Linked DNA regions of Homo sapiens. The protein of the gene in region 1 binds, or shares a complex with, the protein of each later gene. Each region holds a gene or a part of one and is shown on either strand. Other genes may lie near its edges.

The links.
Region 2: the proteins of MAPK1 (region 1) and DHPS are in contact, whole or in part, in a cryo-EM structure (PDB 8PVU), measured with the Homo sapiens proteins. Residues at the interface, in NP_002736.3 of Homo sapiens: Tyr113, Tyr187, Ala189, Thr190, Arg191, Trp192, Arg225, Lys231, His232, Tyr233, Leu234, His239, Lys259; in NP_001921.1 of Homo sapiens: Arg159, Glu160, Asn161, Asn164, Asn173, Glu174, Tyr176, Cys177, Glu180, Asp181, Met184, Asp188, Asp243, Phe247, Tyr250.

Annotation. Positions count from the first base shown.
Region 1 is NC_000022.11:21,790,994-21,794,906, reverse strand, and holds part of MAPK1 (mitogen-activated protein kinase 1), read left to right. Parts: intron 1-3,913. UniProt on the Homo sapiens protein: Serine/threonine kinase which acts as an essential component of the MAP kinase signal transduction pathway. MAPK1/ERK2 and MAPK3/ERK1 are the 2 MAPKs which play an important role in the MAPK/ERK cascade.
Region 2 is NC_000019.10:12,679,858-12,683,770, reverse strand, and holds the start of DHPS (deoxyhypusine synthase), read left to right. Parts: upstream 1-1,890; 5' UTR 1,891-2,004; coding exon 2,005-2,211; intron 2,212-2,400; exon of another isoform or gene 2,401-2,657; coding exon of another isoform or gene 2,658-2,738; intron 2,739-3,445; coding exon 3,446-3,610; intron 3,611-3,848; coding exon 3,849-3,913. UniProt on the Homo sapiens protein: Catalyzes the NAD-dependent oxidative cleavage of spermidine and the subsequent transfer of the butylamine moiety of spermidine to the epsilon-amino group of a critical lysine residue of the eIF-5A precursor protein to form the intermediate deoxyhypusine residue.

The DNA.
Region 1 (3,913 bases):
CTAATTTTTGTATTTTTAATAGAGATGGGGTTTCACCACATTGGCTGGTCTCAAACTCCTGACCTCAGATGATCCACCCACCTCAGCCTCCCAAAGTGCTGGGATTACAGGCATGAGCCACCGTGCCTGGCTTTTTTTTTTTTTTTTTTTTTTTGAGACGGGGTTTCTCTCTGTCACCCAGGCTGGTAGCCACCCCCTCCTCAAGCGATCCTCCAGCCTTGCCTCCTGTGTAGCTGGGACTACAAGCGTGTACCACCATGCCCGGCTAATTTTTGTATGTTTTTGTAGGGACAGGGTTTTGCCATGTTGGCCAGGCTGGTCTCAAACTCCTGGGCTCAACTGATCCACCCACCTCAGCCTCCCAAATTGCTAGGATTGCAGGCATGACCCACTGCGCCCAGCCAAGATCCCTTTACATTTGTTAAAAATTATCAAGGACCAGCTGGGCATGGTGGCTCACACTTATAATCCTAGCACTTTGGGAGGCCGAGGCGGGTGGATCAGTTGAGCCCAGGAGTTCGAGACCAGCCTGGCCAACATGGAGAAACCCTGTCTCTACTAAAAATACAAAAAATGCACTGGGCATGGTGGCACACACCTGTAATCCCAGCTACTTGGAGGCTGAGGCAGGAGAATCGCTTGAACCTGGGAGGTGGAGGTTGCAGTGAGCCGAGATCTTGCCACAGTACTCCAGCCTGGGTGACAGAGTGAGACTCTGTCTCAAAAAAAAAAAAAAAGTCAAGGACCCACACACCTTTTTTTAGTTACGTAGGTTATATCTATTGTTATTTACAATATGAAACTTTTTTTTTTTTAATTTTTGGAGAGAAGTCTGGCGCTTGTCCCCCAGGCTTGAGTGCAATGGCTCAATCTTGGCTCACTGCGACCTCTGCCTCCCGGGTTCAAATGATTCTCCGGCCTCGCCTCCCGTGTAGCTGAGACTACAAGTGTGTACCACCATGCCCGGCTAATTTTTGTATTTTTTAGTACAGATGGGGTTTCACCATGTTGGCCAGGCTGCTCTTGAACTTCTGACTTCAGGTGATCCACCCGCCTCGGCTTCCCAAAGTGCTGGGGTTACAGGCATGAGCCACCACACCCGGCCTACAATATGAAACTTTAAAATGTATTAATTAATTTTTAAATAGTAAACCCACTACATGTTAAGATAAATTACATGTTTTTCTTAAGAATAAGTTTATTTTCTACAATAAAAACGTTTTAGTGAGGCCAGGCATGATGGCTCTCACCTATAATCCCAACACTTTGGAAGGCCAATGCAGGAGGATCACCAGGAGTTTGGAACCAGCCCTGGTGACATAGTGAGACTCTGTACAAAAAAGAAATTTATTTATTTATTTATTTATTTTTTGAGACGGAGTCGTGCTCTGTCACCCAGGCTGGAGTGCAGTGGTGTGATCTCAGCTCACTGCAAGGTCCGCCTCCCAGGTTCACGCCATTCTCCTGCCTCAGCCTCCCGAGTAGCTGGGACTACAGGCGTCCGCCACCACGCCTGGCTAATTTTTTTGTATTTTTAGTAGAGACAGGGTTTTAACCATGTTAGCCAGGATGGGCTCAACCTCCTGACCTTGTGGTCCACCTGCCTCGGCCTTCCAAAGTGCTGGGATTACAGGTGTGAGCTGCTGTGCCCTGCCATCTGTACAAAAAATTTTAAAATCAGCTGGGCATGGTGGTGTGCACCTATAGTTCCAGCCACTCAAGAGGCTGAGATGGGAGATTTTCTTGAGCCCAGGAAATTGAGGCTGCGGTGTACCGTGATCACGCCACTGCACTCCAGCCTGGGCAACAGGGTGAGACCCTGTCTTTAAAAAAAGCAAAACGAAAAACAACCTTTTAGTGAGAAGAGTGGCATTGTTTTCATTTTTGCAAGTCTCTTTAATGTCTGGCTTAATAGAAGACAGTTGGATTCTCATCTGGTTCTGCATTCAGTCTGTCAAATATGTTGTTTTGGTTTAAGTTCATGAGGAAAACTCTTTTTTTTTTTTTTTTCAGGCTTTAATCAATTTAATAATCAATATAATATTACATGCATAGTTCTTCAAAAATGTCAAGGAAAACTCTTTCCCATGGATTTTAACTGCTTGAATTCAGAGCATAGAAAACAGAAGAAAACTTGAGTGCAATATTAATAAAGACCCTTTAAAAAAGATGTTATATAAAAAGAAAAATCGCAAGCCAGTGAAAAATACATGCAAAATTCTAAATAACATTTTAGCAAACAAAATCTATGCTTAAAAGCATAACACACAAAAAAGTGAGATTTTTCCCTAGTATGTAACAGTAATCAGACATTTTATCAAGACATTTACAAATAAGCCTAAAAATAGATGTCTGAGTGCTATTTATGAAATTCAAGATCTATTCCTCCCATCCAAGCACTAACCAGGCCAACCCTGCTTAGCTTCCGAGATCAGACAAGATCGGGCGTGTTCAGGGTGGTATGGCCAGAGGAAAACTCTTCACACAGGTATGTAGCTGGAAAAAGGAGGGAAATTTTAGTAGTCTTTTCAGCCACTTGTGGCTATTCTTTGATCCTACCCCCAGTTTAAACAAGTGGTGGTTTCTTAAAGGTTAATTGCAGTGTGGAATCTGAAATCATATCAGTGAATTCTTGATACTATTTCGTTAAAATCCATTAGTCTACCTTGCACTCATACTCATGCATGATTTTTTAGCGTATTTGGAAAATACTGGTTCACTGAGTTACACAGATATTCCAAGTGTCACATTTTCATGTACACATCATCACTCATCATATTGCATCTGGAAAAATCTTCTTTTCACTCGTGACTGAAAAGGATGAAAATGTCATAGTAGTATAATAAATGTACTGTGACCTCTCAGATCCTCTAGAGGGAACCCATAGGAGTCTCTGGAACACTCTTGTAGAACCGCCAGATAGAACTCCTAAATACCCTTTACCCCAGATTCAGGCTCACCGATTTTTTATCTTTTGCCCCATTTGCTTTATCATTCTTTGTGTGCATGTGTGTGGGCACTCCCACGCACTCTGAGTCATTTGAGAGTAAATTGTAGATACACCCCTTCACCTTGTTTCAGTATGTCTTTACTTCAAACCATGGTCCTGTTGTTCCCTGGGGACATGTGGCAGGGTTGTCACAGTGAGGGGTAGGGGTACTCCCTGCATCAAGAGGCCAGAGATGCTGCTAAAAATCCTACGATATACAGAACAGCCCTCCAAACAGAAACTTTCTCAGCCCAAAATGTTAGTCATACCGAGGTTGAAAAACCCTGCCTTAAGAGTATTCTCTAACATGACCACAGTACAGTTTTCAAAATCAAGAAACTTAATACTGATTCAGTATCTAATGCACAGTTTATATTCACATTTTAGATATTATCCCAATAACCTTTGAACTATACCCCACCCAAACCACCCCCCGACCTGGGCACAGGTTCACATGTTGTACTGTCATGAGTTTTGTTTGTTTGCTTGTTTGCTTGCTTGTTTTAAGACCAGGTTCGCAGGCCAGCCACAGTGGCTCACACCTGTAATCCCAGCACTCTGGGAGGCCAAGGTGGGTGAATCACATGGGGTCAGGAGTTCGAGATCAGCCTGGCCAACATGGCAAAACCCTGTCTCTGCTAAAAATACAAAAAATTTAGCTGGACATAGTGGCAGGCACCTGTGATCCCAGCTACTCAGGAGGCTGAGGCAGGAGAATCGCTTGAACCCAGGAGGTGGAGGTTGCATGAGCTGAGATCGTGCCATTGCACTCCAGCCTGGGTGACAAAGCAAGACTCCGTCTCAAAAAAAAAGGACGGGTTCTCATTCTGTCACCCAGGCTGGGGTACCGTGGCACCATCTCGGCTCACTGCAACCTCCGCCTCCTGGGCTCAAGGCCATCCTCCCACCTTAGCCTCCCAAGTA
Region 2 (3,913 bases), on another chromosome or scaffold:
CCCCATCTCTACTAAAAACAGAAAAAATTAGCCGGGTGTGGTGGCGGGCACCTGTAGTCCCAGTTACTCGGGAGGCTGAGGCAGGAGAATGGCATGAACCTGGGAGGCAGAGCTTGCAGTGAGCCGAGATTGCGCCACTGCACTCCAGCCTGGGCGACAGAGCGAGACTCTGTCTCAAAAAAAAAAAAAAAAAAAAAAGTGACCCTCATAAAAAAATTAGCTGGGCACGATGGTGCACACTAGTCGGAATGCTGGGGTGGGAGGATGACCTGAGTCCGGGAGTCAGAGGTTGCAGTGGGCCGAGATCGCGTCACAGCACTCCAGCCTGGCGACAGAGTGAGACCCTATCAAAAAATAGCAGCAGGCCAGGCGCGGTGGCTCATGCCTGTAATCCCAGCACTTTGGGAGGCTGAGGCGGGCGGATCACGAGGTCAGGAGATCGAGACTACCCTGGCTAACACGGTGAAACCCCGTCTCTACTAAAAATACAAAATATTAGCCGGGCGTGGTGGCCGGCGCCTGTAGTCCCAGTTACTGGGGAGGCTGAGGCAGAAGAATGGCGTGAACCTGGGAGGCGGAGGTTGCAGTGAGCCGAGATCGTGCCACTGCACTCCAGCCTGGGAGACAGCGCAAGACTCTAGCTCAAACAAACAAACAAACAAAACAGCAACAACAACAACAAAACCATCCTCCCCTCCCGAGGGGACAGAACAGAAACGAATGGGCGAGTGCCGGGCCAAGCAGTGGGTCTCCAGCAGGTGGCATTAAAATAGGAATTTTGGCTGGGGACGGTGGCTCACACCTGTAATCTCAGCACTTTGGAAAGCCCAGGCGGGCGGTCACCTGAGGGCAGAACCAGCCTCGCCAACATGGTGAAATGCCATCTCTACTAAAAATAAAAAATTAGCCAGGCCTGGTGGTGGGTGTCTGTAATCCCAGCAACTCGGGAGGCTGAGGCAGGAGAATCGCTTGAACCAGGGGGGCAGAGGTTGCAATGAGTCAAGATTGCACCACCGCACTCCAGCCTGCGTAACAAGAGCGTGTAACTCTTGTCTCAAAAATAAATTAAATAAATAAATAATAAAAATAAAAAAGAATCTTCATTCATGGGAAGTCGAGAACACATGAAAACAAGTAAAGGCCGAAGCGCAGTGGCTCACGCCTGTAATCCCAGCACTTTGGGAGGCTGAGGCGGGCGGATAACCTGAGGTCGGAAGTTCGAGACCAGCCTGACCAACAGGGAGAAACCCCGCCTCTACTAAAAATACAAAATTAGCCGGGCATGGCGGTGCATGCCAGTAGTCCCAGCTACTCGGGAGGCTGAGGCAGGAGAATCGCTTGAACCCGGAATGTGGAGGTTGTGGTGAGCTGAGATCGGGCAATTGCACTCCAGCCTGGGCAACAAGAGCGAAACCCTGTATCAAAAAAAAAAAAAAGAAAAAAAAAGGAAGAAAAGGCCTAAAGGCGCCGGGCGCGGTGGGTCACGCCTGTAATCCCAGCACTTTGGGAGGCCGAGGCGGGCGAATCACGAGGTCAGGAGATCGAGACCAGGTGAAACCCCGTCTCTACTAAAAATACAAAAAAATTAGCCGGGCGTGGTGGTGGGCGCCTGTAGTCCCAGCTACTCGGGAGGCTGAGGCAGGAGAACAGCGTGAACCCGGAAAGCGGAGCTGGCAGTGAGCTGAGATCGCGCCACTGCACTCCAGCCTGGGTGACAGAGCGAGACTCCGTCTCAAAAAAAAAAAAAAAAAAAAAAAGAAAGAAAGGGCCTAAAGGCTCCTCGCGGCTTCCGTATTACGGAACACACGCACAAAAATGGCGGCGACCTGGTTTACAGGGGCTAAAAATGGTCACGTGATAAACCAACTTCCGGTCTTTCGCCCAAAGCACGTTCCCTACTTCCTGTGCTCTTGCGGAGACGCGCGCGTCGGGGTTTAACGCGTTTCTGGGCCGCCGTAAGCCCGGCCTAGGGGCAGCTTTGACTCGAGAGCCGGCTATAGGCGCATGGAAGGTTCCCTGGAACGGGAGGCGCCAGCGGGGGCGCTGGCCGCCGTGCTAAAGCACAGCTCGACGTTGCCGCCCGAAAGCACCCAGGTCCGGGGCTACGACTTCAACCGCGGTGTGAATTACCGCGCACTGCTGGAGGCCTTCGGCACCACCGGCTTCCAAGCAACCAACTTCGGGCGCGCTGTACAGCAAGTCAATGCCATGGTGAGGACCGGGCGGAATTTCTAGGGACGCGGAGGGGCGTGGCTTGTAGAACCAACGCGGTACTAGACGGGGGCAGCGTTTCCAGTGGAGGGGATATGTCTTTTATTTGAGTTGCCCAATAGTTGGAGGAAGGCGGGACCTATTCTGGGCGGGAGTTTCTGTCCTGGGAAGGGGATTTTGCACTCTGGTAGTTACATGCTGGTACGGTAACCTGAGGAGGCGAGGACTGATTCTTGGTGTGGGGGCGGGTTCTAGGTACATTTAAAGCTTTCTGGAATGGGCGGAGCCTGGGGCAAGACAAATTAAGGGAGGATATGGGAGGAGGAGCCTAAGTCTGGGCGGTTCTTGAATTTAGATTTGCTTTTCCCAGCGGGGAAGGGACCGGATCTGAAAGGAGATGCTCTCTGATTCCTAAAAGGGTGGGGGCTGGCTGGGCGCGGTGGCGCATGCCTATAATCCCAGCATTTTGGGAAGCCGAGGCGGGTGGATCAAGAGAAGAGGAGTTCGAGACAAGCCTGGCCAACATGGTGAAACCCTGTCTCTACTAAAATGCAAAAAATTAGCCGGGCATGGTGTTGCGCGCCTGTAGTCCCAGCTACTCGGGAGGCTGAGGCAGGAGAATCGCTTGAACCCGCGAGGTGGAGGTTGCAGTGAGCTGAGATTGCGCCACTGCACTCCAGCCTGGTGACAGAGCGATACTCTGTCTCAAAAAAAAAAAAAAAAAAAGGCCGGGCACGGTGGCTCATGCCTGTAATCTCAGCATTTTGGGAGGCCGAGGCGGGCGGATCACCTGAGGTCGGGAGTTCGAGACCAGCCTGACCAACATGGAGAAACCCCGTCTCTACTAAAATGCAAAAAATTAGCCGGGCATGGTGGTGCGCGCCTGTAGTCCCAGCTACTCGGGAGGCTGAGGCAGGAGAATCGCTTGAACCCGGGAGGTGGAGCTTGCAGTGAGCCGAGATCGCGCCATTGCACTCTAGCCTGGGTAACAAGAGTGAAACTCCGTCCAAAAAAAAAAAAAAAAGGGTGGGGGCAAATCCTGAACGTGTGTCTTGAGATCTGGTCTGGGAAGGGGCAGAGTTTACACAGGAGATGTTCCTTGGTCCCCTGTAGAACTGGTCCTGTATCCCTGAATGTGCAGGGCCTGGGGTGAAATCTGTTTCTGGAGCCCACCTGGAGTCCTGAGTCTGGGATTTAAGGCCAGTGCTTAACTTGACTTGGCCCTTACTCACAGATCGAGAAGAAGCTGGAACCACTGTCACAGGATGAAGACCAGCACGCGGACCTGACCCAGAGCCGCCGCCCACTTACCAGCTGCACCATTTTCCTGGGATATACATCCAACCTCATCAGTTCAGGCATCCGTGAGACCATTCGCTACCTTGTGCAGCACAACATGGTGGGGACCTGGTGAGGCCGTGGCCTTGGCCTCTGGGTCAATGGGCAATGCAGTTATTGATCGTTTAAGTGAGATGGGCAGATAGGGGTCTGTTATAAGCAGAGGAATAGAATCAAGTTTTGTTTTGTAGCAGAGCTCCCTCATAAGAGTCACTGGACAAGGATGAGGTTAGAAGTTCTGCCCAGAATGAGGGCAGGGGCTTCCTTCTTGGGCCAAATTCACTGCCTTGTGGCTGCAGGTGGACGTATTGGTGACCACAGCTGGCGGCGTGGAGGAAGACCTCATCAAGTGCCTGGCGCCCAC